Linked DNA regions of Homo sapiens. The protein of the gene in region 4 interacts with the protein of the main gene of each other region in a pairwise test. Each region holds a gene or a part of one and is shown on either strand. Other genes may lie near its edges.

Region 1 (7,828 bases), on a different chromosome or scaffold from region 4:
TCATAAGGACTATTACACACAAGACCTTCTGAAACTTGAAAAATATGACAAAGTGTTTTAACTGTGATCACATATCATATATAACTGCTTTACAGAAAATGCTAAACACAAAACGTACTTGTGCTCAAAGTAATGCATTCACTCACAGTCATTCAAATACACATTCACCCTGTAATGGAATCTGTCGACACTCTTGCCAGAAAGTATGTAAACAAAACCACCAGGTCTAAAGCCTGGGAAAGTAAGTGGGAAGCAGACACTAAAAACTGTTCAGGCATTCTTAGAATAGCACACAGATATAACATTAAACACTCCTTAGAACAATTACTTTTTAAGGAGGCAGAAAATACATATACACCATAAAATAAATAATAAACCATATAAATATACATGCCACTCTGCCACATAACAGTCAAGTGGTGACTGAAACAGTGGGACTATTTGTCATCACTAGGGAAATACTTTATAACTAAGTTGTAGTTAACTATGTAAATGACAGAGTTTGGTTCAGTTTTACAAACAACAGATTATAAAATTTGTCTCCTTCAATAAAAGAGACAGTTATCAGGCCTTATGTGCTATATGCTCTTTGTAAATAATAAGAAATTGTAGCTCCAGCAAACTGCCAACTCCTCTGGCTCTACAGCTGTGTATGCTACCCAACTCTCCTACTAATAAAAATGTTATTTAAGGTTTTTTGAGGACTACAAAGCATTTTTTAAAGCACTATATTCAAGCAGCTAAGACGCACAGTCTAAAATGGTGATTTACAACTGGTATGCTGAGGTTGGTTGTATAGTATGTGGCAAGTAATTTGTTTCTAACAATAGAGTAGTAAAGTTGGCAGGGTATTTTTAAATATAAAACTAATATTCCTGATAATATTATCAGTCTCACCAGTGATATTCCAACATTCTTTCTTGAGTGAGAGTCAAAAGACAAATTAGCACTAAGAGGTCCTGGGAACAATATATGGGCCAAAGCCCATTATTACTATAAAAGAAAGAATAATGGCTATTTTGGGGGGGAAGAAAGATTATGATTGGGATGGGGCACATTGAAAAGTTTGTGGGGTGCCTAGAAAAGTTCTATTTCTTGACTTAGTTATAATTACAAGAGTTCTAGACGTTTGCCTTATAACTCATTAATTTATACATTGGTATTGTGTGGTTTTCCGTATCTAGTTTCATTTACAATAAAATCTTTTTAAAAACCAATAAAGCAAGAGAAACTCTAATAGCTGTGAGGCTAACTGAGACCGTGGTACAGCTCACTTAATCTTTTATTATCTTTTGGAAAAAGTGGGGGTACAAATGAAAATATACTTTTAACCTCAGCTTTTTGTATGTAAAGTTAGGATAAAACAAACACCCCGTATACCACTAGGGATTTTGGTGCTGATTTAATGAAAGTCTACTTGTAAAAATATTTTGAAATACTTTGAAATTCTGTAACATTCTCTGCAAATGCAAAGTATTCTTAAAACCACATAGAATAAACAATAGTCTCACTTCCTTGCTTAAAGCCCTTCAATGACACCACCCATTTAGCAGTAATTTTCATAGTGTTCTTTGTGGAAACCTAAGACTCCACAGACATGCTTCAGGGGCAGGGCATCATGTACAGATATGCAGATTGTGCTTTGCACAACGGTGCCTGGCACAAGTGGATCTAAAATCTGGCCTTCATTGTTCGCCAAGCCTTGAACCTTAGTGAAGAGACATTTTCCTTTGCATGTCGAGAGGGAGCTCCTTTTCCTAAACTGTTCAGAGACTCTCTAAGTGCTAGCTGTAGTTCTGTTCAAAAGTTCCCCATTAAACAGTACCTTATTTCTGTCAAAAAATAAAAACAAACTGTCTGCAAGTCTTCTTCAAAGTTAAGACAACACAAACACATTTTATATTTGTAATTCCTTCATTTACAAACATATTTGAGCATTTGAGTTCCTCTTCTGTGAGTTGCCTGTTCATATTCTTTGCCCATGTTTCCCATTGGGATTTTTTTTCTGAAATCACAGAAGCTAATTCTAAATTAACCTGTCAGTTATGCACATGTTATAAATCTTCTCCCAGTCTGTGAAAACTTACACATTGCAAGTGCAAGTGTAAACTGGTAATAATCCTTTTGAAAACAATTTAGCAATAACCAGTAGAGATGAAGGGATAGGCCAGGCCTAGTGGCTCACACCTGTAATGCCAGAATTTTGGGAGGCCAAGGCGGGCAGATAACTTGAGGTCAGGAGTTCGAGACCAGCCTAGCCAATAAGGCAAAAACCTGTCTCTACTAAAACACAAAAAATTAGTTGGGCATGGTAGTGCATGCCTGTAATCCCAGCTACTTAGAACGCTGAAGCAGGAGAATCACTTGAACCCGGGAGGCGGAGACTGCAGTGTGCCGAGATTGTGCCACTGCACTCCAGCCTGAGTGACAGAGCCAGAATCCATCTCAAAAAAAAAGAAGGTATAAAGGTATACATGTCCCAGCTATTCTTAGGAAAACTCTCATACATGAGTACAAGGAGGTACTCACAAGGCTATTCATTAGAATACCATTAGTAATAGCAAAAAAGTAAAAACAATGATGGCCTTCATAATCTAAATAAACTTTCCCATCTAATTTTCCATCCTTTCCCTCTTTTCTCTGAAATTTTATTCATTCATTCATTCATTCATTTGCTGCCTTAAGGAATATTACTAGACACCTACTCTGACTAGACACCATGCTAGGTAGGCAATCATGCTTAATTACTTGCAGTTACCCTACTAAACCATGGTCTCTTACTGGCTAAAGAGACTTTTCCTGTCCTTCCTCTGGGTTTTGACATAATTTTGTACATATCCCTGTTAAACTACTTATCAGTACTCCATAATACTTGTTATTCAATTATCTAGCTACAAAATAAGTGAAGGCAGTCCCAAATCACACATTCAATTAAATATCTGAACAAAGGGCAATTCTGTTTTTTAAAATTCCATCCAACAATTACCAAAAAAAAAAAAAAAAGTATTTTCTAAGCGAATATTCAGTGCTAGAATACTACTTTCATGAGGATGTCATGAAAGTATTTGTTATCATGGTATCCCCAGCACCTAGATCATTGCCTGACACATAAGAGTCACTCAATAAATAATTGTTAAGACCAAAAAGCCCAAGCAATATTATCTGACAAATAATAATATTTAAAAGTGAAAACAGAATCGTTAATTTATGTAGATGTTTTATCACTGAATAAGTAAAAGCTGTTTTCCCTCTTAAATAAAAAGTATTTTTTCTTTCATGGTGAGTTGCCCTCACATCTTCCCACCAAATACTTTTAGGACATGTCCCAATGAATTTCTTTGCTATACAAGGTTATCAGAGACTCAACATCAATCATTTTCTTCTCTGTGTTACTAACACAGAAAAATTCCCACATTAACTATGAAAGGCTGGAATTGCAGCATTACTGTTAGATATATAACATTTTATATTATAAAATACACTAAAAGTAAAAATAGATAAAAGTATGCCTACTACCTAAAAGACTGCCCTGTTAAAGACTGAATAATGAAATCACACATACACACATATACACCCACACATTTCCATTTGTTAAAAAGTTATTTGCATAGTTTGAGTTGAGAAAATGTTATGCACTAAAAGGCATATAAATCTAGTATGTATCAGGCCTCATTTGTGCTACATTCTATATTAGTATTCTACTGTATAATATAGTTAAGAATATTTATATAAAAACAAGACATAAAGATTTAAGCTCTCTCAGTTATTAAATGCAACAGCATCAAAATGGCTTACCAAGTTATCATTCCAACTAATTCTACTTGAAGAAGAAAACAAGCTTTAGCCATTCAAGCTAGAAAAGCATTAATTACCACCTGGAAAATACTAGAAATTAACAATGGAAACAAATTTGTACTTCTAGACTTATGAAATGATTTTGATTAAAATAGGCTATTGCTTTCATTAATTTTATTTTTTAGGAATAAATGCAGGTTAATTTCAAATAGTAGCTCCTTGTCCAAACAAATAATATAACATTAATACTAGCTAGGACAATATTTGTTACAGTAATTAAAAGACAGAAGTAATGAGTTCTGAGGAATGAATTAAGACTCTTGGATATAGGATGGCTTGGAAATCATGCTAGTAAAAACCGGAAAGTACTAGCGATTAAATCTGATGTCAATGCTAACAACTATTTGTAATTCTCAAACACAGAGAAAACAGTAAGGAGCTTCTCAAAGAAGCATATGAATAGACTGACATATTAAAAAACAATTCTCATTATGAATAATAAATACAAAAAATACTTCATAGAAATCTGCAAATTTAGTTTAATATGGCTTTATGAAATATGCACAATGAAAATAACCAGTTACAGCAGCTTTAATTTAGAAGGGATCTTGCATGTACTGGTAATCTAAATCCCTCAACAACAAAATAAGACGAGGAAACTGAAACCCAGAGAAATTAGGTGTGTTGCTAAACATCAAACAAAATGTTAAGTGTCAGTCCCAAGACTAGAACCCAGGTCTTAAGACTTTATAGTCTGGGGCTCTTTCTACTAGACTGCTATGTATTCAGTCATAGTCAGCTAGAAAAAATGTTAAGTATTCATCAACGGTATTCATGCTGGAATTTAAGAGGCTCTGCTCTTTTCCCTACTTATATGCCACCCAAATAGAGCTGTGTTTTCATTTGTTCATTCTTCCCATACCCCACTCTCAGAGGTTTACAGCACCCCTTTACATGCTCAATATTACTCTCCTCCACTATCCTCTTGAATCCATCCTTCCTCATCTCTCAAGAATCTTGCTCCATCAATAATTGTCATCTCTTTTCTATTTTCAGACTTTCTGTAGGACAGCTCACGTGGCAGCTGGCTTCCTTTATAGTAAGCAAGAGAGAGTGCCCAAGATAGAAGCCACAGTCTTTTGTAACCTAATCTTAGAAGTTACATTCCTATCATTTTTGCCAAATTTTATTCATTAGAAAGAAGTCACTGAGTCCAGGTCACACTCAAGGGAAGAGAGTTACATAAGGGAGTGAATACCAGAATTAGGAGAAGCCATCTTAGAAGCTGCCTGCTACAGCTTCTAAAGAAGAAATGCATAAGGGAGGCTTGCTAACCAGATACCAAGACTTCTTACCAAGCAAGCGATTAAGAGATATGGTATTGGCAAAAGGACAGATAAACTGGCTAATGGAATATAATAGAGAACCCAGAAACAAATTAATGCATGTTTGGAACTTTGGAAAGTAGCAGAAGTGATATGTCAGATAGTGAGGAAAGGAGGGACTATTCAGTAAATGGAGGTAGAAAAAGTGGTTATCCACATGACAATGGTATCCCTAACCGCCTCTCACACCATTAAAAACAAGAACAATAGAACTCTTAGTGAAAATATAAGTATTTTTTAGACCGTTAGATAGAAAATATTTCTTAAACTAGACACAAAGACGTTGATTATAAAAGATGGATAAATATGATTATATTCAAATTAAGAACTGTTACTCATTGAAAGACATCTTAAGACAGTGAAAGACAGACTTAAAAACTGGAAAACACAATAAAAAAACTATTAGGTCAAGAATATATAAAGAATTCATACAAGTCAATGAGAAAACTAAAAACAACCCAACAGGCAAAAGATATGAACAGATATTTCTTATAAATAATACATATATAAAGAAATATTCAGTATTATGAGTAATAAGGGAAATGTAAATTAAGACCAAAATAAGAATAATCCATTCCATTGGCAAAAATTTAAAAGTCTGACAATACTAAATGTGAGAGACAATACAGCTCCAAAGGATCTTATTTACACTGCAGGTGAAAAGTAAATTGAGGCAACCACTTTGAAAATAGTTTGAAATTATCTCCTAAAGTTAAACATTAGCAACACTCCATCATCGAGGGAGTGGATGTAAAAATGGTGGTATAATCACACAATGGAATGTTATGTGGCAGCTCAAAAAATGCACAAGAATGGATGAATTTTAGTAATATAATATTAAGTGTATAAGGTCAGCCTTAAAAGATAAGATTTTTTAATTAAAGTTAAAAACATCTAAAATTTAAAAATTCCCAATGTACATGGAATTCAGAATGAGTTACCTCAGGTCAGTGAAAGCACGTTAAGGAAGGGACTTATAAGATTAGATGTTAGTTATTATCAAGAATCTAGTTTTGCTTTGGGTGATGGGTACAGAGATACTTATTACATTATTAAAAATAACTAAGTAAATAAATAAAAACCAAGCATGAACTAATAATGAGAGTATGTCATGAAACAAAGACATGTTTAATCCAATGCTGTGTACCTAAGCTTTTTAAAAAAAGGTCCTAAAAAAAGTCTCTTTTTTAAAGCTTTTAAAAAAAGCTACATGAAAATTTGATTTCAGCTTGCATGTTAATCATGCTTTTCACCAACTGCTATATAAAGTATAATTTGTATTACATGGTACATCTTATAACAGCTGTTATTTCATATGTAATGGTCTTGCTTCCTTACCAAGAATATAAATATTTCTACCATACATACTGTCTCTGAAAAAGTACTGACCATAGAGTAAGTGCTAAATAAATACTTGTTGAATGCTTGATATACTTTGTATATTTGTTCCTGCCCAAATCCCATGTTGAACTGTAATCCCCAATGTTGGAGGTGGGGCCTGGTGGGAGATGTTTGGGTTATAGGGGTAAATCCTTCATGGCTGAGTGCTGTCTTCAGGACAATGAGTTCTCGTGAGATCTGGTCATTTAAAAGTGTGTGGAACCTCCCCCTCAACACTCTCTCTCACTCCTGCTTTTGCCATATGATGTGCCTGCTCTTGCTTCACGAACTTCCTCCATGATTATAAGCTTCCTGAGGCCTCCCTAGAAGCCGAGTAGATGCCAGCACCATGCTTACTGTAAAGCCTTCAGAACTATGAGCCACTTAAACCTCTTCTTTTTTTTTTAAGAAATTACTCAGTCTCAGGTATTTCTTTATAGCAATGCAAGAATGGCCGAATACAACACTCATATTTAACTTATTCCTCAAATAGCCAAGAGTAAAGCTATGAACCCTGTATCCCAAATTTCATTAAAAGTATTACATCACTATGTTTAATGTTTCCTACTGCTTTACTCGGGAAAGGAACTTAGACCAAAATCACCTGCTCACCTGTTATGGCTGAGGGAAGCAGTGATGGGGGTAGGCACCACAGTCTGTAACCCCTCCCCTTCTATCTCAGTACCAACAAGGCAGATGAGCTGGAGTTCTGGTAATCCTACACAGTTTACTTCATGCCAGCTTTTGCCTGAAAGAGCATCATTGAATGGACAATAATGTTTATTAAATACAAAAAATAAAAACTCCAAACTTCTACCTAATACTCAGCTGAGCAAATATCACTCGTAACACTACCTCCTGTCTTTGCTTTTCTAGTAGCTTCTGTTACTCAGTAATTCCCAATGTAAATAAATAAATTGCAAAATTAACAGCAAATGCATAAAAGATTGCTTATTATGTTAAGAATGCTATATCCCAATCCAACCCCCCAAATCTCTACCACAGTCCCAATAACAAAACAATATAAACAAACAACTTACTTTCCATGAGGTCCAGGTAAACCAAGAACGCTACATAAACTTGGGTGGCATCTCCTATATCTAATTCCATCATTTCTAGATACTGAAAATTAAAATATAATTGTCAAATTGAGAAGAAAAAATTATTTAATATTTTCTTCCAATCATCAAGTGGTCATCAAGCATATATAATCTATAAAATTCTTCTAGGTATAGTGGAAGTTAAAAGGCAATATAAGATCTTATCTC
Region 2 (7,952 bases), on a different chromosome or scaffold from region 4:
ATACCATTAACTAAATCAGGCCTAATCTGACCAATATCTAAGATGGTAAATTTTAAAACTGAAAGTAAGTTGTCCACCAAGTTGTCAGATATATTCTTACAAAAATAACAGAAACACCTCTTTGTATTTTGATTAAAAATGAACTGGACCTAAAACTCTTAAAAGCTTCTCACAAGGCTCTAGCTTCCTTAGCCAATGTGTGCACCTTACCTGAGCTTGCTTCCTTTTCTTTACTTCGTTTTTTTTTTTTTTTTTTTTTAAGCCTTCTTTTTAAAAAGCAAACCTCACTACGGGGAAATATTGATTTTTAACTTACAATCAGGATAATTCATTAGAGGTAACACATTTTCTTTTAGTGATTTGATCAGGTGTTTAGCGCAGCTATGTAGACCAGTCCCTTTTGGCATGGGAAGTAGATGACCAATAAATACAAAAACAGATAAACTGAACAAAGCTGCATCAAAGATCAGAAGAAATAAACTTAATGCTCGTATCATATCACATTTTTCTGTGAAATTCTAGAGCCATGAACTAAGCTCCTTAGATTTCACAATTAATGATTACAGCCAGCAGGACCTCACTGATTATGGATATTAAAATTAAACATTTGCCAACCAATTCAAACCCCCATGTCATAAGAAATAGCAGATTAAGAGGCAGTATTATACTAACAGACATGCAATATTATAATCCCTGTAGAATATTTTCAAAAGCTTAAAATAGATCTTTTAAAGAAAATAAAAATACATTTTAAAAATATCATTTTTTGCTTTCACTGGAAACTACCACAAATAAAAAATTACAAATCACTTAAATCTTGAGTAGAAATTTTATTTGCTTTTAAGAGAATGCTTATTTTTGCATATTTTTTTACTCAGTGTACGGTATCAAATGCACATCAATGCCACTTGCCTGTTCCCCAGGAGCCTTTTCCTAAGTGATTTTCCCCAGTACACTTGCTGCAAGGATAGGAGTCAATGCTAGAAGGCACTTCCCAGTGCCATGCTGTGTGCACTGTCCTACCCAAGGCAAATTCGGAAGGAACAGCCATTACACACGGCCATTAAATGTTTAAAGGGCACAGGTGCTCTGTTGCAACGGCCTTTGAAGGTCAACAAGTCCTGTTTTCCTAGAAAGGCCTCTGGATAGATCTATTTTTCTTTTTATTATAACCACATTCTTTCCACAAAGAAAACAATCACTCTTAAAAAAATACTTTCAGAGGAATTAACAGTCAATGCCTAGCTTATAAACAATTATATAATCATGTTTTTCAAAAGGCTGACAAGCGAATGCTATTTTTTAATTTATGAATACTGACGACACCTACTGGTGGAAAATATATTTTAGTTAACTGCTTATGGAGAAGCTAGGCCTACAAGGGTTGGCTGCCTTTTGCGCTGATAAGGAAACCAGAAAACTACCCACTAAACTCACTTAGGTTTCTTTTTCCAATTTTGCCAATTTCCATTATCAGGAAGTGATATGCTCATCGATGAAGCTAAAAGATATCTCTGCCTCAAAGTGTATAAAGCATACTTGATTTAGTGTTTAAATCAAACACTAAAAAACAAAAACCCCAATAGTGATATCTGAAAAATATTTACCAACTATTTCCAAAACTATTCCAACCCCTTCCTTATTTCTCACATCAGGATATCCCCATACGAGGAAAATAAGTCATATTTTATAGTCTAGATCCAGCTACCAATGAAGAAAATTAATATTTGACATGTGATAAGTTTCATATTTGTGATATATAGACATATCTATATTCTATGTATAAGAATAAAATGAAATTAAGCAGGCAAGTTTTACCTAAGCCTTTAGCTAAACTACTCAAAAACACAGGACTAAGTAATAGTAGGAAGGGACTGGTTAGAGTCCTCAGCTATCCTCACTATTCTTTTCTTTGGCCCACTTCAATTTATTAATTTATTGGTTATGCCTTTCTTCCTTACAAGTGGAGTTTGAGTGGGCACCAATTGCGCTGCTCCTATGTTGATTAAATTAGGAAGTTCCCACTGAAAAAATATTATATCCATTCCAGGCCTGACCAACCTGAATTCTATGCAAATGCCACTAGGGCCATCACACTTTCACAGCTGCTGGCAACAAAAACTCTTTGTGATAATATTCGACTGAGCTGGAGTGTAGGGTTGGGTTTGAGTGAGGGAGAAGTTAGTTTGTGCTCAGCGTATAGAAAGCTGAATACAACCAGAGACTGCTTGGAGTCCTGTCAGCCTGGAGCAGCTCTTGCTAGAGGAAATGAATCTTTGATGGTGTGCTCCCGAATATACATGATTCAGTGAGCCAAGTGCATACAGCTGAGCAGACCCAAGGAAGGCGAGTGGGTGGAACCTCAAGAATGCTGTGACAAGGCCGGATGCACACCTGCCTTCAGCCTTTCCCCAGTGGTGGTGGTGATGTTTGATGTTCGCAGAGTGAGGTGTGGGAGAGTGGAAAGCTCCCAGATACACGCATGAGCGGCAATGACTAGCTGGGTCCTGTGGGTTCCACCGCAGCTTGACCACAGCAAAGCTGTAATCTAGCGAAAGCGACTGTATTCCCTAAGACCCTCAAAGAGAGGGATGCTTTCTCCTCCAGCTGAACCCAACCTTTAAGGCCAGTGAGCTATGTGCCAGAGAAATAACACGCAAGAGGAAAAGGCAGACTAAACATAACCTGGGAGCACTCCTTCACATCGCCCGCAAGGCACAGGAAAGTTCCCAGAAAGAGAAATGTTTCCAATGTTCCAAGGCAGCTTTCCATTGACCCTAAGGACTTTAATTCATTTTCAAGATCCATGTGGGAGACACTCCAATTTACTCATTTAGCCCCAGCCCCCCGGCTGAATGACCCTCACTGGCCACAGGTGATAGGCAGAGGCGCTGTGTCCTGTTTTTGCTGCCAAAGGGCTGCAAGGCCAAGTCTGACAGGTGAGAGGGCTGGTACGTCCCTCTGCTCTCACAACCCAGGCAAAAAAAACTCGCTTAAAGGGTAGCGACACTGGGGCTTGCTGACACTTCCCTGACACTGGGGCTTGCTGACAGTAGGAGAAAGTCCCTCTGAGAGTCCAGACAGAAGATGGACAGTCTGAGAGCCCTGCAAAGGCAAGGAGGCAGTTGCTCCCAGACCGGCAGGTAGAGGGACAGGGAGAGAGGAGGCAGCTAGTGCTTGGTCCACAGAGAAAAAGCGAGAGAAAAGGAGACAGGGTGAGAGATGGCGACGGGGAGACACAAAGAAGACTGTGGGAGAGATGTAGAGAGAGAAAGTGGCACACACGGAGAGTGAGAGATGGAAACAGAGACAGTGACACTGGACGGGCGCCGAGAATGGGAGATGGAGGCAGACGAGACAGGCAGATGACCCATAGAGGTCCAGGTGCAGGGCGCGGCCCTACCTCAGCGTCCTTGGCCGGACCGCTGGCCGGGGGTAGCTCCAGGCTGCAGTTCGCTCTCTTGACCGTGAGGTAGAAGGGGTAATCCTTGGCCACCATGGCGGCTGCCGGGCCTGCCCTTTGGGATGTCACCGCTGACCCTAGGCGACTACAAAACTCCCAGGCAAAAGGGGGCCCCAGCTCCACGATGCCGGGCGGCGGCGGCGACACGGAGACCGACAGCCGGCTTCTAGCCGGGCAGGACTCGACTGGGCTCCGGAGCCGAGTGGGCGGGACCGTGCCAGCCACGCCTTGATGGGTGGGGAGGGGGCGGGCCGCCGGCTCGGCACCGCCCCACGCTGCCGGGAGGGCCCACGTGCCGCAGCGCGGACACCTCCTGGGGCTGCGAGGGGCGTGGGGCGGTCCCGCGGGTGGAGAGGGACCTCTCTCTCCCCGCTGGTATTCGACTCCGGGCGCCCCCGCAGAGCGTGGGCCGCGATTGCGGGGCAGGCAGACCCCATGATAGCTCCTTTCGGGCTCTTTGGCACTCTCCGGGTGAAAGGCTGCTGGTAGAAAGGAGGCTGGGGCGAAACCGGGCAACGGGGAGAAAGGAGGCTGTAGTGACACCTGGAGGCAGGAAGGAGCCTGGGGGGAAAAGCGAGCGTTTTAAAAGCCCACATTAGAAAGGGGTGGTGTTCTCTCTTACCCTGTTCCCAGGCCACTGCACGTTTTTTTTGTTTTGTTTTGTTTTTGTTTGGTTTTTTAAATGAATGTCAGTGGAATATAATCTACAAATGGCAAAATGCACCCATTTTAAGAGTACCGTTTGTTGAGTTCTGACAAATGTAAACACCCGTATAACCACCTCCACAGTCGGTATACGAAACATTTCCACCACCCCCGGAAAATTCCCTCGAGACCTTTCCCACTTTGCACCAACTTTTAAATTTGACTAGCATATTCAGAGGCTGCCTGACACTCGAGGGCAATCTGACAGAGTGTCCTTCAAGTATAAAGCTGTGCATGGATGACCTGGCACTACCACACCTTTCTGGATCCTTTTTGGAGAAACAATGACATTATAAATGCCCAAGAAGGCGATTGATCTTAAGGTTGTTTGCAGCAGCCCTGTCTGGGGCAGTAAAAAATAAAAAATAACTGGAAACAATGGTAATATATCCATCAATAGGGAGTGCTTAAATAAACTTTCTTCACTGTGTAATACCGCTTAGCAGCAGTGAAAAAGGAGATGGGTCTATGGGTGTGGCATGGAAAGATCTCCAATGTATTAGACTCAGTTTAAAAATAATTGCAGACTAAGCATAATACAATACCATTTGTGTTAAAAAAAAATACAAGTTTACCAAAGAATATCATATATTTTCTATAAAGACATATTTGTGGGTAAATAGCATTGAACACTGTCTACAAGAATCCACAGCAAGCTTTTACCAGTTCCCCTGTGGCTGAAGGGAGGCACCTGGGTTTAAAGAATTAAAGATAGTGAACAAAAGGGACTTAAGCTTATAGCTCATGTTTTAAAATTTTTTATAAGAAAAATACAGCCTGGGCAGCAGTGAAACCCTGTGTCTACAAAAAAAATACAAAAAATTAGCCAGGGATGGTGGTGCACACCTGTAATCCCAACTACTCCAGAGGCTGAGGTGGGAGGATCACTTGAGCCTGGGAGGCAGAAGTTGCAGTGAGCCAAGATCATACCACTGCACTCCAGCCTGGGTGACAGAGACCCTGAGAAAAAATAAAAAAGAAAAGAAAAAAAGAAAGAAATAGAGGAAGGAAGAAAGGAAAAAGAAAAGAAAAGAAAAGAAAAAAGAAAAGATGGCTAGGTAGAGTGGCTCACACCTGTAATCCCAACACTTTGGAAGGCCAAGGCAGCAGTGTGGCTTGAGGCCAACAGTTCAAGACCAGCCTAAGCAACATAGCAAGACCCTGCCTCTACAAAAAAATTTAAAAATTAGCCAGGTATGGTAGTGCATGCCTGTAGTCTCAGCTAATCCCGAGGTTGAGGTGGGAGGATTCCTGAGCCCAAGAGTTCAAGGCTGTGGTGAGCTATGGTTGCACCACTGCACTCTAGCCTGGTGACAGAGTGAGACCCTGTCTCAAGAGAAAAAAAGAAAAATACCTTCATTCATGGCACTTCTTGGGAAATTATAGTTTTTTAAAATATTATAATTATCATATTTTCTTTCTTTTTTTTTTTTTTGAGATAGGGTCTTGCTTTGTTGCCCAGGCTGGAGTGTAGTGGCATGATCTTGGCTCACTGCAACCTTCTCCTCCTGGGCTCAAGTGATCTTTCCACCTCAGCCTCCCAAGTAGCTGGGACTACAGGCCTGGACCAGTGTGCCCAGCTAATTTTTGTATTTTTGTAGAGACAGGGTTTTGCCATGTTTGCCCAGGCTGGTCTCCAACCCCTGAGCTCAAGCAATCCACCTGCCTCAACCACCCAAAGTGCTGGGATTACAGGTGTAAGCCACCATGCCCAGCCCTAAAATGATCATCTCTCAAAAGTTATTTTGTAGACTGTACTGTTGAATCTTTTTCCTCCTCATGTGGAAAGTCATGACTACATCAGGTGGTGATCTATGGAGACACTATCTTTTGTTTTTACTTCCTGGGGATGCAGGGGATAGTGGGAATGGTGATATCCAGTCCCTGTTTGCGTGCTCTTTGCTTCTAGCTGAGGTCAGAACCCAGCAGTTCCTACTTCTCAGGCAGGACACCTCATAATACATAGCTCTTCATCCCAGGTATCAAATCCACACCCTCACACTAAATCCACTTACTTTCCTACCCAGCTAGTGCAGACAAACTGCCTTTGGAGGCAGAAAGAATTGGGCCCTGTGTAACCAGCCTGTTATTACCACACATGTAAATGAAGCTCCTGAATGGGTGGAGGTTCCAACTGAAATTGAAGAGAGCACCTGAGTTTTTTTCCCTCGATAGATAACCTGAAGCAATAGGAAGAAAACTGTCTCAGAAGAGGTATGGGGCAGGAAAGAGCACCTCAGAACCACTGATTTTTCCTATTTGTATTCCTGAACACAATTTTATCCTTTTAGCCTGAGCTGTGCTGATGGGGAGCTCACACAAGTGCTCCAAAAGCTTAGCCAAGCTTGGTGGGGGTGTGAGAGTAACCTCATCTCCAAGTAGCCCCTGATTAACTATGCAGCCAAAGGCAGGGCCAGAGGCAGTGACATGCGTCACTCAGGGCTTGTCTGGCCACCAAGAACCTGTGCCCAAGTACCCGAGCCACTTCTTATTCCTCTTTCTCTGCCTGCTCTTCTGGCCCTCACAGTCCACTATCTCAACTAGAACACATTTGCCATCAAAGCCACTGGCTTTGACTCCCAGAAGAGCTTGCTGGGCCGTGTTCTCAAGTTGGAAAATATACTTACAGCACTTGGTGAAGAAAATAGTCACCCTGGCGACGTCTGATAGCCCTGGGACTGGGTTGCTCATTGCAGTATCCTTAGGGCCAAGCAGGGAGTCTGACATACCATAAATCCAGTGTAACAGTAAACAAACCCTAAGAAATATGTTTATTTTATTTTTTTGAGACAGGTCTCACTTTGTTGCCCAGGCTGGAGTGCAGTGGCACAATCTTGGCTCACTGCAGCCTCAACCTCCTGGTCTCAAGCAATCCTCCCGCCTCAGCCCCTCAAGTAGCTGGGACTACAGGCACACGTCACCACGCCCAGCTAATTTTTATATTTTTTGTAGAGATGAGGTTTCACCATGTTGCTCAGGCTGGTCTTGAATTCCTGAGCTCAAGTGATCCACCCACCTCGGCCTCCCAAAGCGCTAGGATTACAAGCATAAGCCACTGTGCCTGGCCTCCGAAGAAATGTTAAAGTGCAACTTAGGTTGAAGCACAACTATTGCAGAGCAATGAACAGTCATATTGATTGATGAGAAGGCTGCCGTATCCATCTTCTCTTAAAACATTTCTTTGCTTTCCTTAAAATATACTGGAGCCATAAAAATCAATAAATACACAGGGCTACACAACATATATATGACAAACATACCTCTTTTCCACTATACATGCTAGGCAAAGAGAGACAGACAGAGGCAGAGAGATTACTAATGGCCTGTAACAATTTAAATAGTGCTATAAAAAAGCATAAGCTACAAAAGGAAAGATGGGAATCTGGAATTCTCTTGGGTGGTCTGATTCTTCCAAGCTTCTTATAGCACGAATGTCTCACCATCCAGAATAGGATTCTGGTGTTTAAATACAGATATTTTTGGTACAACAAAGCCTATAAACTCAAGCCAGCAATTTGGGGTGCATACAAGCCATGTATATGGTCCTTGAGGCATTTAACAAATTTTTCAGGAGTATTTTTTTTTAACTTCCATCAGTATATAGGTTAAGGTCAGGATTAGCTATTTCAGGAGTATTTCTGACCTCATGCAATTTCCACCTTGGTCCCTGACTTCAGCACCTTCCCCATATGTAATGCACTGCTCCACCATTGACAGATTGGGGTTTTAGGCAATCTGCCTGAGACACTATCTGGGGGTGTCCGTGAACAAAGACTGTCAGAAA
Region 3 (7,765 bases), on a different chromosome or scaffold from region 4:
CCCGCCCCATACTCATGCTGGCTCCACCCACACCATGGCCCCGCCCCATACTCATGCTGGCTCCACCCACACCATGGCCCCGCCCCATACTCATGCTGGCTCCACCCACACCATGGCCCCACCCCATACTCATGCTGTCTCCACCCACACCATGGCCCTGCCCCATACTCATGCTGGCTCTACCCACACCATGGCCCCGCCGCATACTCATGCTGGCTCCACCAGTGTGGCCCCGCCCCATACTCATGCTGGCTCCACCCACACCATGGCCCCGCCCCATACTCATGCTGGCTCCACCAGTGTGGCCCCGCCCCATACTCATGCTGTCTCCACCCACACCATGGCCCCGCCCCATACTCATGCTGGCTCCACCCACACTATGGCCCTGCCCCACACCCATCCCAGCTCCACCCACACCATGGCCCCGCCCCATACTCATGCTGGCTCCACCCACACCATGGCCCCGCCCCATACTCATGCTGCCCCCACCACACTATGTCCCATTCTCACATTTGCCCTGCCCCATGCCCATTATGCCCCTGCTCCACACTCAATGCTGGCCCCGCCACACTGTGGCCCTGCCCCATACTCATCAATATGAGTCCCCATGCCTACTCTGGCCCCACCCCACAGACCGCTGGCTCGGGCCTGGCGCGTCTGGGACTCTCATGGTACGCAGACCGGCCTGCAGGCACCTACAGCGGAGGGAACAAACGCAAGCTGGCGACGGCCCTGGCGCTGGTTGGGGACCCAGCCGTGGTGTTTCTGGTGCGTGGGAGCGGTGCCTGGGTGGGGTGGGGCCTGCGACGGAGGCGGGGCCTTGCTTATGGGATCTTCCGTGCTCCCCAGGACGAGCCGACCACAGGCATGGACCCCAGCGCGCGGCGCTTCCTTTGGAACAGCCTTTTGGCCGTGGTGCGGGAGGGCCGTTCAGTGATGCTCACCTCCCATAGGTGGGCCGGGCTCTGATGCCCTGGGCTGTGGTTAAGGTGATCCAGGCCTGGAGAGAGAGCCCCAAAGCACAAGGCCACAGGGGATGGGGGGTCCTGGCCCTAGTGGGGCGAGGGCGCCAGGCCCCGGGGTGTAAGGACACACAGAGGTGGGACGCGGCGCCGGGATCAGAACGGTCTGGGGAAGAGTGGGGAGATGTCCACACCAGAAGGGTGGCCCAGGCCGGGGGAAGCAGGCAGTGTGGCGCCAGGCACAGGTGGCCCCGGCCTCACGGAGCTCGTGGTGCCGGGTCCCGACAGCATGGAGGAGTGTGAAGCGCTCTGCTCGCGCCTGGCCATCATGGTGAATGGGCGGTTCCGCTGCCTGGGCAGCCCGCAACATCTCAAGGGCAGGTGAGCCGGCGCGGCCTCCAGGCAGGTGTGGGGTGAGGGTGGGCACGTAGGTAGGCTCAGGGGAGAGGCCAGACGTAGAGCCGGGTGAGGAAAGTTTGGCTCCAACTGGAGAGATGGCCAAGGCTTTAGATTGTCCTGCAGGGGTGACTGAGGGGGCGAGACAGGCTGGGGTGTGCTGGGGGCGCAGGACCAGGAGGCGTGAGCCGGGGGCTCTGGGTGGATTTAGAAGACACAATCAGGTGTGCGTTGGAGTAGGTGCAGCCTGGAGAGGTGAGGGTGGATTGATGGGTGGAGTTAGGGGAGGGCCTGGTTAGTGGGCGGGGCCATAGGAAAGTGGGGCGGGGGTATTTATTGTGTGGGCGGGGGTAGAGTGCAAGGGCGAAAGAGGAGTGTCCGAAAAAGGAGTCAAGTGGGGTGATAGCTTCGAGAGCAACCTGGGCAACCTAGGGAGACCCCATCTCTATAAAAAATTTAAAAATTAGCTGGACATGGTGGTGTGTGCCTGTGGTCTCAGCTACGCGGGCGGGGGGTGGCGGGGGACTGAGACGGGAGGACCACTTGATCGCTAGGGTAGTACAAGTATGGGGCGGGGCCAGAGAGTATTAGGGGCTGGAGGGTGAGCTGAGGTGGGACCTGGGAAAGGCCCGATCCGGTAGCCCTGGCCCCACTCACTGCAGATTCGCGGCGGGTCACACACTGACCCTGCGGGTGCCCGCCGCAAGGTCCCAGCCGGCAGCGGCCTTCGTGGCGGCCGAGTTCCCTGGGGCGGAGCTGCGCGAGGCACATGGAGGCCGCCTGCGCTTCCAGCTGCCGCCGGGAGGGCGCTGCGCCCTGGCGCGCGTCTTTGGAGAGCTGGCGGTGCACGGCGCAGAGCACGGCGTGGAGGACTTTTCCGTGAGCCAGACGATGCTGGAGGAGGTGATCACGGCGCCGGGGTCGGGCTGGGGGAGGCAGGCTGGGGGCCAGGCCCGTGGGCTGACCGTCCCTCTTGTCCCCTCTGGGCTGCCCACCGCTAGGTATTCTTGTACTTCTCCAAGGACCAGGGGAAGGACGAGGACACCGAAGAGCAGAAGGAGGCAGGAGTGGGAGTGGACCCCGCGCCAGGCCTGCAGCACCCCAAACGCGTCAGCCAGTTCCTCGATGACCCTAGCACTGCCGAGACTGTGCTCTGAGCCTCCCTCCCCTGCGGGGCCGCGGGGAGGCCCTGGGAATGGCAAGGGCAAGGTAGAGTGCCTAGGAGCCCTGGACTCAGGCTGGCAGAGGGGCTGGTGCCCTGGAGAAAATAAAGAGAAGGCTGGAGAGAAGCCGTGGTGGTGAAACCGTGTGCATGTGTGTCCTTGAGCCAGGCTGCACACATGTCCACACAGCTGCCTGCACATGCGTCTGGATATGGCTGGCCCCTTGCAAGCTGAGTGTGCACATACGGGCCAAGTGGCGATTCATAGGACACAGGTGTGAGCGTGCCTACAGCTGACCGGATCCCAGCTGTAAATGCCTCTGTGGCCAGCCCAGGAGTTGGGGATGTGAGTGCGGGCCTCATAAGGGCCTGGTCACACCGTCCCTGTCCCCACGTCCCTGCGTGCCTATGTGGGGCTGGCGCCTAAGGGCGGTACCTGTAAGTGCCTGGCCATAAAGTGGGGATGAGGTCAGGACTCAGGAATGTCCTGGGAAGCTTACAGGAGCCCGGTGTCCCGGAGCACAGGCCAGGGCCGGGCCAGAAGCCCATCCGACATCCAGCTGACCCTCACCCTCTGACCCCAGCCCTCAGCGCCATGAGTCGGGGGCAAAGAGTTCTCAAGGGTCTGCTGGGCTGGGTTTGCACTTGGACCTGGGCCTGGAGAGCCAGACTTGGAGCAAGGGGCTGTGGCCTTCATGTCCTGTGCCCCAGAGATCTGCCCCTCCCACCCGAGGTAGGTGGGAATGGGGTTTGGGAAAGGAAAGAGGTTGGGGTTTTGGGATTGGGGGTGGGGTTCTGGAAGGGGACAGCAGGGAGACTTGGGGAGGGGGGAGAGAGTTCACACTGCGGGGTGGGGGTTGGGGGAAGGTAGGAGGCTGGGATCTGTATGCCTGCAGATGCCCCAGCTCTTGGCCAATGCCGCCTCAGGCTGTTATCAGCAACGGGTGCCTGCGTCCTGCTGCCCAGCACGTCCGGTGGTCCAGAGTCACTGGAATGCAGCTTGGGAGGCGGGGCTGGGGACCTTAGCTAAGGGCAGGTCTGGGGCAACATGATATGGCCCACAGGGCTGCTGAGAGGTAACCAGGTGTCCTCAGCATATTCTGCCGATGGTGGGGTCCACACCACACTTTGGGGACCCCTGTGCAGGCAGCCCAGGACCAGGTGGACGTGGGGACCCAGACGGACGTGGGGACCCAGACGGACAGGGCCCGGTAACCTGGATTGTTCTGACTTCCTGGACGTCTTTGCCCCCAGGGTTTCGGTTCTGGGCCTCAGTTTCCCCACCTGTCCTCGACCTGACCCACTTCACGGGGCTGCAGGGCGGGTGATGGGGGGGACCCTACTCTGCCCGGCCCTGCTGGGGCCCGGCCACACCCTAGGGTCTGCAGGAGAGGCGGTGGAGCGGGCTTGCCTTCAGGGAAAAGGGGGCTGCAGGGGCGCAGCTTCGGCCTGTGCGTGTGTCTGGGGTCTGAGGGCGAGGCTCCAGGGGCTTGGTGGCGTCTGAGCGCGTGTGGAGGTCCGGGTCTCTGCGTGTCATCGTGCACGTGTCTGTGCACGCCCACTCGCGTCCGGGAGTGAGAGTCAGCGCCCTGCAGTCGGCCGCCCCGTGCCCGCCAGCGTCAGGCAGGGGCTCCCGGTCCCACCCCGCGAGCGGCGCGGCTCCGAGCTCCCGAAGGCGGAAGCGGGGGGCGCGGCCCGGGGCTGGGGGCGGGGCCTGCGACCTCACCTTCGCGCCCACTCCGCAGAGCCGCAGGCTGAGGCCGGGAAGGGTCGGGGGCGAGGCCGCGTCGCCGCCTCCCCGAAGCCTTTTCCTGTTGGGGGGAGGGCCCGCCAGTGACGGCCGGGCCTGTCACGTGGGCCTGACAGCTGGGGAGGGGGTGGCCGGCGACAATGTGGTCCCGAAGCGGCCAGCGCCGGGAGCTGCAGCGCTGAGACCCCCAGCCCGCCCCCTCGGGCTCCCGGCCGGGGCCCCATCATGTTCTCCAGGAAGAAACGAGAGCTCATGAAAACCCCTTCCATCTCGAAAAAGAACCGCGCGGGAAGCCCCAGCCCGCAGCCCTCGGGGGTGAGTGGAGCCCGGGTGAGACCCGGAGCTGACGCCGGGCCGCAGGGGGACAGGGACCCGCCCTGTGCTCGGGGCTCATGCTGGGGCGGCGGCTGGGGGCTCGTGCCAGCTACAGCCCCTACCGGGCGGGACGGCAGGGGCCACAGCAGAGAGGCCGGGACCCCGGCATTCAGCTCACGGTAGGGACCCTGGGAGTGGTGGCCGCCTCCCTCCACTCCATCCAGGGCTGGCCGCGGGGCCCAGGGAGCAGGAAGGGAGGGTGCCGGGTTGGGACGATGTTGTGTTTGGGCCGCTGCAGGTTGGGGGCTTAGGCAATCTGGGGGCTCTAGGGGCCGTTGAGATGGGAGGGCTGTGGCCTGGCCATTGGGCTGAAGGTTGACCGGGCAGCAGATCCTCTAATGGGATCCACCAGGTTCAGAGGTTGGGGAGTGTCCCCAGGCCTGGGGTGTCTACAAAGCTGGGGGGGGGGTCTACAGAGCTTGGGGGTCCGGGATGTCTACAAGGCCTGGGGCTGCCCATAGGCTCTGGGGTTCCATGGACCTTTAGGGGACAGACAGAGTCAGAAGTGTGTTCACTTAAAGCACCTGCGTTGTAGGAGCCTGAGGGGGGCTTGAAGGGCTGAGGACCCTCCCCACCCCCACCAGGAAGTGGGGACCCCCCTCCCGCGCCTCCCCGCAGGCCCCGCCCCGGCTGTGGTTTGGGCAAGGACCGTTGTTTGTGAAAGCTCTAGGGAAGAGGATGTTGGGTAACAGGTGGGGGGGTACACTACCAAATCTCGGCCCTGTGACCTCTGGCCTTTGACCCCTGTGGGGTCAGGGTGATGGTGGCCCTCCACAGCCCCACTTCATTTCTGGGGAAACTGAGGCCGTGTCCAGGCCGGAAAATCCCTTTAACGAGCTCCCCTCGGACCTGCCCAAGGAGCTGCCCAGGAAGGATGGGGCTGACGCGGTGTTCCCCGGACCAAGCCTGGAGCCGCCCGCTGGGTCCTCCGGCGTCAAGGCCACAGGGACCCTCAAGCGGCCCACCAGCCTGAGCCGCCACGCCAGCGCGGCTGGCTTCCCCCTGTCGGGTGCTGCCTCCTGGACACTGGGCCGGAGCCACCGGAGCCCACTGACAGCCGCCAGCCCGGGCGAGCTGCCCACCGAGGGTGCCGGCCCGGACGTCGTCGAGGACATCTCCCATCTGCTGGCGGACGTGGCCCGCTTCGCTGAGGGCCTTGAGAAACTTAAGGAGTGTGTGTTGCGTGACGGTGAGAGCCACGGGGACACCGAGGCCTGGGTGGAAGACAGAGCCAGACCCAAGGGAGGATGGAGGGAGGGACTTGGGGAGGCTCAGAAGGGAGGGAGGCTCAGATGGCAGGGAGGGCTGTGTGGAAGAGGCCATGACAGCTAAGGCTCTGAGGGATGTGTAGGAGTTTGGTGGGGGAGTCCCTGAGCGTACACTGGCTCAAGAGGGTGCCCACTTTATTTTTTTTAAAGGATCTGATGGCAATTAGGAGGGAAAGGCAGAGGAAATGTCCCATGCACAGGCTCAGAAACACGGAAACAGAGAATGCATTTGGGGGCCAAGGTGTGGGGTGCCGCTGGTGTAGGATGAAGGCATGACAACGCCAGGCAGAAGGGCAATGGGGAGCCATAGAAGGTGTTAGAGCACAGGACAGATGGGGGCAGATCTGTGTCTTGGAATGAAGCAAACTGGGGGTTGGCTGAGGTCTGGGTGGAGAGAGATTCAGGAGGCATGGCGAGGGGCAGGATGGGGTCATCAGGCGGCGGAGGTGCTGGGACCCAGCGGCCTGCAGGCCGGCAGTTCCGTTTTCTCCTCCACGCGGCCGCTGACAGCCCTGCTTCCTGCCGAGTTATTTTCATCTGCTTCCTGTTTGTCCCTGGCAGCCCAGGCGGGCACCTCATGTGCTGCCTTCAGCCCCCGGCTCCTCCCAGAAACCACAGTGCCAGGGTCATGCCAGGCGCTCTGATCTGCTCCCAGCAGCCGCCCATTTTACAGATGACGAAACTAAGTCTCTAGTGAGGCCCTGACCCCTGGCTCACCCAGCCAGGGCAGGGCAGAGCCAGGACTGGACCTCAAGTGGTGGAGTGGCCTCTGCACCTTCAGGGCACTAGTTGGGGAAGGCCCGGTCCCCACTGGGAGGAGTGGGAGCCCCCGGGTTATCTGGTCCCAGGGGCGGGGGCTAGGCTGCTTTCCTGGGGAAACCCTAATCTCGGTTCCTTTCCGATCCTGGCGCTTCCTTGGAGGCCTGGCCTGGGCGGGGCTCAGCTCCCAGGCTCCTGCAGGAGGTCTGAACTGGGCCAGCCAGGGTGGGGCACTTTTTTTTTTTTTTTTTTGATACAGGGTCTTGCTCTGTTGCCCAGGCTGGAGTCCAGTGGTGTGATTGAGGCTCACTGTTACCTTGAACTCCTGGGCTCAAGCCATCCTCCTACCTCTGCCTCCCGAGTACCTGAGACTACAGGCATGAGCCACTGCACCTGATTTATTTTATTTTATTTATTTTATTTGAGATGGTGAGATGGAGTCTCACTCTGTCGCCCAGGCTGGAGTGCAGTGGCGCGATCTCGGCTCATTGCAACCTTCCTCTCTCGGGTTCAAGTGATTCTTCTGCCTCAGGCTCCCGAGTAGCTAGGACTACAGGTGCGTGCCACCACACCTGGCTAATTTTTGTATTTTTAGTAGAGATGGGGTTTCACCATATTGGCCAGGTTGGTCTCAAACCCCTAACCTCGTGATCCGCATGCCTCAGCCTCCCAAAGTGCTGGGATTACAGCAGGCATGAGCCACCGTGCCCGGGCTTTTCTTTTTTTCTTTCTTTTTCTTTTCTTTTCTTTTTTTTTTTTTTTTTTTGAGACAGAGTCTCACTCTGTCACCCAGGCTGGAGTGCAGGGGCGAGATCTCAGCTCACTGCAACCTCCACCTCCTGGGTTCAAGTGGTTCTTCTGCCTCAGCCTCCCGAGTGGCTGGGATTGCAGGGGCGCGCCACCGTGCCCGGCTAATTTTTTTTCTTTCTTTTTTTTTTTTTTTTAGTAGAGATGGGGTTTCACCATTTTGGCCAGGCTGGTCTTGAACTCCTGATCTCAAGTGATCCACCCACCTCGGCCTCCCAAAGCGCCAGGATTACAGGCGTGAGCCATCGCGCCCGGCCAGTTTTTGTATTTTTTGTAGAGACCGGGG
Region 4 (7,828 bases):
TGAGGCAGGAGAATGGCATGAACCAGGAAGGCTGGGGTTGCAGTGAGTCAAGATGATGCCACTGTACTCCAGCCTGGGTGACAGAGGGAGACTCCATCTCAAAAAAAAAGAAAGAAAAATCTGTTGGTCAAATATCTCACCAGCGTATCATGGCTACACTAGTTCGCATTCACTGCTGATATTTTCAATGACCAAAACAAGGCTGGTTCACATTAACATCAAAAAACATATAAACAAATTTTAAAAGGTTAAAATTATTTAACATTTTAATTATTTCAGAAATGAGGCCAACATTTTAGGTGTGCTGTCAACATACAAAAATAATTCCAGCTCCTCTGAGACTGTCAGTGAATATCTGACTGCCACTAAGGTGCCAAATTGTCAAATGCAGCATAATGCATGAAAAGTGTTTTCTGTAAGACAATGAAGATTTAAACAGACTGAATGGCTTTTTTATTATTTCTCTCCAAAATGAACAATTGCCAATCAAGGAAAGCAAAGAATTGCTCGATCTTAGCGATTTAATTGTAAAACAAAAATATCTGACTCCTCTTATTTCAAGCTTCATATCAGTTTAATTAGAAAGTGTCTTCATGTTGCTAGGTGAACTACTTCAAAACCACCATCTGCAACTCCTTATCTGTGGGATTGTGTCTTCTTGCGACTTCACAAGCAAAACTAAAAACAAACTGGATGCTGAAAGTGATCATCCAAGTACCTTCCAAAATCCCTGATACTAAATTTGTGTTTTCATCGCACCACCTTCATTGTACTTACTGATTTTATAAGTCAATGTTCTAAAACTTAATTTTAAAAACAAATACCCAGAAGATACAGTTTTCATCTATTTTACATCTAGAACCATCATATACTATTATATAATTTTTTTTTTGAGACAGAGTCTCGCTCTGTCGCCCGGGCTGGAGTGCAGTGGTGCGATCTCGGCTCACTGCAAGCTCCGCCTCTGGGGTTCACACCATTCTCCTGCCTCAGCCTCCCGAGTAGCTGGGACTACAGGCGCCCGCCACCATGCCCGGCTAATTTTTGTATTTTTAGTAGATACAGGGTTTCGCCATGTTAGCCAGGATGGTCTCGATCTCCTGACCTCGTGATCCGCCCACTTCGGCCTCCCAAAGTGCTGGGATTACAGGCATGAGCCACCGTGCCCGGCCCATAAAATTTTATTTATAAAAAATAGGATTTTCCTAGTTTTAAACAAATTTTTGATACCCACTGATTTATTCACCACTGTTGGATGAATAAAGCACAAGAAGGGATGAAAGAAAACAGAGGGTGATATCTTACTAAGTACTTAAGTGCCACTACCTTAACAAGTCAAATGGAGGTTCCTATAGTGTTTTCAGGCTTGCTTTTTTTTTTTTTTTTTTTTTTTGAGATGGAGTCTCACTTTGTCACCCAGTTTGGAGTGCAGTGGCATGATCTGAGCTCACTGCAACCTCTGCTTCCTGGGTTCAAGCGATTCTCCTGTCTCAGCCTCCTGAGTAGCCAGGATTACAGGTACATGCCATCACACCCGGCTAATTTTTGTATTTTTAGTAGAGATGGGGTTTCACCTTGTCGGCCAGTCTGGTCTCGAACTCCTGACCTCAAGTGATCTGCCAGCCTTGGCTTCCCAAAGTGTTGGGATTACAGGCGTGAGCCACCGCACCCGGCCCGGTTTACATCTCTTGCAAACATAGCTGAGTCTTACTCGAACCTCCCTAAACTTTTCCCAAACTCATGAAGTGACAATGGCCGAGCCAGAAGCTAAGCTGCTGGGCTGTGAATTGGAGTCTCTCTTCATTTCCCCAAGGGTTCACATAGTTTCCCACACCATCTGAGGAGGTGTTATTTACCAGGGACTCCTATGAGCCAGTCACAGTGGCACACACCTTACAGAGCTTATCTCATTTTAAGCTTTGCCATAGCCTATGAGGTAAGCATTACTGTCCACATTTTGTAGACACTAATCAGCAGGCAGTATATAGATGATCCTGTATCTCCATACTCTCACTGCCGATCATAAATCATGACACTTTGTCCTGACTTAACCACCAAGACTAATCAAACGTCCCTTCCATTCCATCCATACAGCCACAGTCCCACACACTAATGGAACTCACGACCTTCCTTGATGAATGCTCTAATTCATCTTCCACCCAATTCTTCAAACCTATCCTACACTCACCTATAAAAACCATTCTCCTAAAAAACGTCATTTTGATCACTATTTTGATGGTTATTTCCATGTGGTAATTTCCAGTTGACTCTCATCTCAAATTAAAAACAATCTATGATTGTCTTCCATAAACTGTTCATTTTCCATCCCTAATTCTGCTATACCCCCAATCCTTATTCCATACAGCAATCAAACACTAGCTGATGAACCTGCAATCGGTCCTGCTCAATCCCATGTGTGACTTTCACATGCCACCGCCCTGGCCTAGAATATCTCCCCTTCTCCTCCTAACAAATCATGCCTCTCCCCAGTACCCATCAACTCCCTAAGACTCTCAGGCAACACCTTCGTCAGTATTATTGCAAACTGCCATTTACCTTGCCCAGTCCTCCCAAAGGGAGATGCTGGGCTAGAGTCAAAATCAAGCCCCATTCGCTACTTGATGTGTCACCTCAATCCTCTAGCTGGCTTACAAGTTACTGTATAGCCCAAGCCCATCCAAACAAAACTATATCCACACTCTAAAAGAAACTTCTCAAATCAGGTCTACTCCTTCCCTGCCTGTATTCATTCCTACCTTCAGGTTGCCTTTAGTCACTGCTTAAGATTGGAAGCACATGGTGACTCATGCCTGTAATTCCAGCACTTTGGGAGGCCAAGGCGGGCAGATCACTTGAGGTCAGGAGATCGAGACCAGCGTGGCCAATATGGTGAAATCCTGCCTCTACTAAAAATACAAAAATTAGCCAGGCGTGATGGCAGGCGCCTGTATTCCCAGCTACTCTGGAGGCTGAGGCAGGAGAATAGCTTGAACCCGGGAGGCAGAGGTTGCAGTGAGCTGAGATCACACCACTGCACTCCAGCCTGGGAGACAGAGCCAGACACCATCAAAAAAAAAAAAAAAAAAAACAACTGGAAGTGCACATTAACCTCTAGAAGCAAAAGGAGTGGATACTGGACAATAGGGCTAGTGGGAGAGTAGAAGAATCAGTATGTCAAACGGCTCTTGCTGCCACAGTACAATCGTGAATTTCCTCTGTAGAGCTCTATTCTTAGAGTCATGTCTAGCATGATTAGTCTAGGAAGACAGGCTCGTGGGAAGGCTTGGGGAGGGCCATCAGATCTAGGCCTTATAAAAAGAAGAATTTTTATTTTTCTTGATGTTGGCTAAATGGTAAAAACTCAAAAGCCAAAATTAGATAAAAGATGCCTTAGGAGGCCACAGTAAACCTCCTGGAACCAGCCCAGCCCAATCTGATCCTTCCTTTCTGTTAACACCACGTTTCCTGGAGCACATGTGAGTTTCATGAGATAGGACTGCAAACTAGAAAGAAGGGCATCAGGCCAGGCGCAGTGGCTCATAACTGTAATCCAGTGCTTTGGGAGGCCGAGGCGGGCAGATCACCTGAGGTCAGGAGTTCAAGACTAGTCTGGCCAACGTGGTGAAACCTGGTCTCTAACTAAAAATACAAAAATTAGCTGGCGTGGTGGCACACACCTGTAATCCCAGCTACTCGGGAGACTGAGGCAAGAGAATCGCTTGAACCCAGGGGGCAGAGGTTGCAGGGTTGCAGTGAGCTGAGATCATGCCACTGCACTCAAGCCTGGGCAACAGAGTGAGACTCGGAAGAAAGAGAGAAAGAGAGACACAGAGAGAGAGAGAGAGAGAAAAGGGAAAGGAAGGGAAGGGGAAGGGAAGGGAAGGGGAAGGGAAGGGAAGGGGAAGGGAAGGGGAGGGGAGGGGAGGGAAGGGAAGGGAGAAGGAAGGAAGAGAGAGAGAGAAAGAAAGAAGGGCATGCAGAGACAGTAGGGTGCTCCCTCAAGACCGAATAATCAGCCAGGGAGATAATGACAGACAAAATCAGGGGCCGAGATAATGACAGATAAAATCAGGGGCCCTGCACTCCCAACAGCTTATAAAGTAAAATGGAAATAAAACCATGTGTCTGAAGGAAGCATAGGGTACCATGACAACATTTCAAAGGAAGATTGATCATGTCGAGGTAGTCAGATTAGGCAGTGACTCTGAGCCGGGGCTGTGCCCAATAATATAAAGCCTTTTAAGCCGTAGTATGGTTTTGCTTAGGTTTTTGGATGATAATGAGTCTGGGTGGGGTTTTTAGGTTTTTGCTCTTTATCCTAAAAACAAAGAGAAGCGTCTGAAGACTTACGCAGGTGAATGGCATCATCAGATTGAACTGCCACAAACTACTCAGGCTACAGTGTGTCTGAGGGACTGGAGAGTGGCAGTGAGGAGACCGCCAGGAGGAGGCAGAACACAGCAGTGGAGACAGACGCAGGCTGATGATTCAGGATGCATCCATGAAGTAACACTCACAAGACTTACTAGCGGACAGGTTTCATGCGGAGTAGTGAGGAAGAGAGACAGGTAACAAGGAAGACTCCTGGGTCTCTAGTCTGGGTGTTGGTGCTCTGGGGAGACTGAGGCAGGCCAGTGTAAGACAGGGGCAGGGAACAGATAGCATGAGGCAGATATGACAACAGGAAGTAAAAATCAGCTTGCACCGAGAAAGCAAAAGTCTGTCCTGACTTCTGTCAGGCTGGAATAACAAACACAGATAAAGTCAGGTGCCAAGTTAACAGAAAATATCTCTCAAAGACAATGCAACTGTAAAGTGTCATAATGACCTCTTCTTTGAGTGACTGCTAACTTCTTATTCACTGAGAAGCCTTATTCTGTAAAATCCCAGACTCGCACAAATTTTGTTCTTTGAAATTATACAAGTAAGAAGATCCCACTCTTGCCTGCAGGATCTAAGTCACTGTGACACAGAAAAGAACCCTATTTCCAGCTACTGCAGAGCTTCAAGTAAGGGATTTCTAGAACAATGTTCCACGTCTATTTGAACGTTGTAGTTTTCAAGGAAACGGGACCTGGGTCCGCTTCGCAGTCAGACTTAATATTGGTCCCTTTAGACACAGTTCTATTTTGCTTCATTTATGCTTCACCTAATACCACTCTGTCTCCAAGTCCTACAACAACTCTATCCTCTTTTTTGTTGACATGCCCCACAGTTTCTCGGTGTTCTGGTATGGTCTTCCTCACTGCAAAGAGCCATAAACCTCACTCTGTCAGACTGTGGGTCTGTTCCTGGCGACCTTAGACTGATTAGGCTAGGGCAGACATTTAGAATTTGAAATAATCATGAAACAAGCAGGAAGAAATGCCAAGTCGGAGTCAGGCACAAGGCCGTGAGCTTGGAGAGTTCTGGGCTAGAGAGTAAATCCAGCAGCCACTGGCATCAAGACGGTAACTGAAGCTGTGAGTGTGCATGAGACTGCCTAGGGAGAAGCCATGGGGTGAGGCAATGAGCGGGGCCTAGGCCTGAGTCTCAAGCCCTATTGGAAGGCTGCAAAGCAGAGAAGGATAAATTTCAGCAAAGGGGAATAAGCAGGAATTGCCAGAGAGACTATGGGGAAAAAGGTGACTCTATAGCCTGGGAAAGGCCGGGACTATGAGATAAGATCTCCCAAAGGCAGACTGTGATCAAGTGACCACAGATTTGTTTGTGGCCCTCACTCGGTTTGATTTTGGCAGCGGGACTGATCACTAAAGACACTCATGTTAACTAACTCATGAGACCCTGATGTATTTTTTAGAATGCCAGTTTATTAATTTACAGTGAGAATATAACCAACCAGCAGGCTGCCATACGCTGCTACTGGTGTATGCCTATTTACCTTCCTTTCCTGAAGATAAATGCACAAGGAATGACTAATCTCAGAAAGTTGCTGGATGAGCATGAAATCAAAACTAGAGAAATTAGAAGTCAATGACCTGGCATTCTGGCAACCAATGACACGCCATGTATCTGGCAGAGTCCCAGTGGGAAAGAGAAATCAACCCAGATGTTGAGACTTTTCTGAAGGGACCACTTACAGAGGGGAGAGCAGAGATAACAGAACCACCAAGGGACAGCGAGGTACCCAGGGACTAGCAACAGCCCTACAGCCACAGGAGCAGGGGCAGTCCAGCAAGAGCTAGGACTACGGAAGAGGCCTCTAGACAGGAGTCTCTGTTGTGGAGGGATGCAGCTACTGCCACAAAACAGCAGCAAAGCAGGGAGGGAGCAGGAAGAAACACCCCAACCTCTCTCTCCACCCAGCAATGCCTTCCATTGGTGAGCCCCACTGGCAGCCAGCAAGGGAACCAGGAGAGCCCCATCTGTAGGGATCTACCTCCCAGAGCACACCACAGGGCAGAGAAGACTGGATCCAAGGACTTCGGAGAGAATATAAACAGGACAAGGTACGGTGGATGAGAACTGTCCCTTCTAACTGGATGTGGCTGGCCCACTGACCAGATACGTTTGCACATGCCAGAAACTCATATTCTCGGGGTGAGCTATCTTCTTGTCTGGACAAGTGCTACAGCTACCTGGGCCCCCTGGATGCACCTTTTCTAGAGGGCACACAGGGAGGGATAACAACCAAATGTCATGCAGTAAATTGGCCTTTACCGTCAAAGGCTGATTTAATCATGATTTGGCCTCAATCAAGCAAGTGCTGAGACAATCTCAGAGTATGTCCAGGAACTTCAATAGGCTCCTAAACTGGTATTCAACATAACAGCTCAGCTCAAATCTCAAAAGTCTGAATGGACACCAGAAAGCCTAAACTTCAATCAGTTCTAGATACTGGCTCACCCATCCACCTAAAGATAAGTGAACACACTTCCAGCTATCTCTACTGACAAGTAAACTCCATGCAAGGTTTCCATTTGGCAAGATCCTTAACTTACACAGTAAGTACTTAATTTTCAGAATAGAGCTTTTCAGTTATCAAAAGTATAAAATTCTTCTGCCAATGAAGAGAGAGAGAAAGAGAAGCTGTTAATAGATGCTCAGAAAACTGGCAACCAACTTATACCAACTTACATATGTCCAAGTCACTACACTGAGGAAACCTCCCTTTCTTAGGTCATCAGACTCTCCCAAATATCATCACAAGGACTGTAAGAGTACCTTAAAATTCGTTTACAATTATTTACCTAGGGTAAATCTGCTAGAACAAATTACTGTTACCACCAATGACTGCTGAAAATGAAGACTCACTTTTTTCTACAATCTTTAATTTCTGGAAGCTCTCCAGCACCTCCCCATTTAGTATTCTGGGTAAGAAGTCCCGTATTTGCATCACTTCAGTTGTCAGCCGTTCCAGATCCTTCTTTCTGACTTTAACAAATTCCTCTTTAGTTCCCATGTGCTAAAAGAACAAGCAGATCTTATTATATTTCTCTTCACATGAGAAAAAAAACAACAGCTCAAGTTAACTTGCTTTTCTTTCACACCTCTTATGTGCATCGTTGTTTCAAATCATGTCTCTACCTACTGTATATTCTGCTATAGATATATTTTATGTACATACAAACATTTTGAAAGCTGAAGCTTCAGCCTTCAAAAAGGGAGCCAGATGTTAAAAATAATAAGGACAAACAGGCCAGGCATGGTGGCTCACACTTGAAATCCCAGGAATTTGGGAGGCCAGGAGTTCAAGACCAGTCTGAGCAACATGGAGAGACCCTGTCACTACAAAAATATGAAAACGTGCCCAGGAGGCCCGGCGCAGTGGCTCACGCCTGTAATCCCAGCACTTTGGGAGGCCGAGGCGGGTGGATCACCTGAGGTC

What was found.
Region 1: the proteins of HSF2BP (region 4) and TSEN15 interact in binary tests that used the Homo sapiens proteins (3 or more experiments, as listed by UniProt).
Region 2: the proteins of HSF2BP (region 4) and ARHGEF3 interact in binary tests that used the Homo sapiens proteins (3 or more experiments, as listed by UniProt).
Region 3: the proteins of HSF2BP (region 4) and ARHGAP45 interact in binary tests that used the Homo sapiens proteins (3 or more experiments, as listed by UniProt).

What each region holds. Positions count from the first base shown.
Region 1 is NC_000001.11:184,054,208-184,062,035, reverse strand, and holds part of TSEN15 (tRNA-splicing endonuclease subunit Sen15), read right to left. Parts: intron 7,683-7,828; coding exon 7,601-7,682; intron 7,309-7,600; coding exon 7,173-7,308; intron 3,876-7,172; exon of another isoform or gene 3,796-3,875; intron 1-3,795. UniProt on the Homo sapiens protein: Non-catalytic subunit of the tRNA-splicing endonuclease complex, a complex responsible for identification and cleavage of the splice sites in pre-tRNA. It cleaves pre-tRNA at the 5' and 3' splice sites to release the intron.
Region 2 is NC_000003.12:56,798,300-56,806,251, forward strand, and holds the start of ARHGEF3 (rho guanine nucleotide exchange factor 3), read right to left. Parts: upstream 3,651-7,952; 5' UTR 3,500-3,650; coding exon 3,404-3,499; intron 1-3,403. UniProt on the Homo sapiens protein: Acts as a guanine nucleotide exchange factor (GEF) for RhoA and RhoB GTPases.
Region 3 is NC_000019.10:1,062,911-1,070,675, forward strand, and holds the start of ARHGAP45 (rho GTPase-activating protein 45 isoform 1 precursor), read left to right. Parts: upstream 1-4,256; 5' UTR 4,257-4,495; coding exon 4,496-4,585; exon of another isoform or gene 4,586-4,662; coding exon of another isoform or gene 4,663-4,764; intron 4,765-5,503; coding exon 5,504-5,834; intron 5,835-7,765. Other genes in the region: phospholipid-transporting ATPase ABCA7, read left to right, coding at 634-768, 850-953, 1,251-1,343, 2,021-2,261, 2,360-2,515. UniProt on the Homo sapiens protein: Contains a GTPase activator for the Rho-type GTPases (RhoGAP) domain that would be able to negatively regulate the actin cytoskeleton as well as cell spreading.
Region 4 is NC_000021.9:43,649,333-43,657,160, forward strand, and holds part of HSF2BP (heat shock factor 2-binding protein), read right to left. Parts: intron 7,406-7,828; coding exon 7,255-7,405; intron 1-7,254. UniProt on the Homo sapiens protein: Meiotic recombination factor component of recombination bridges involved in meiotic double-strand break repair.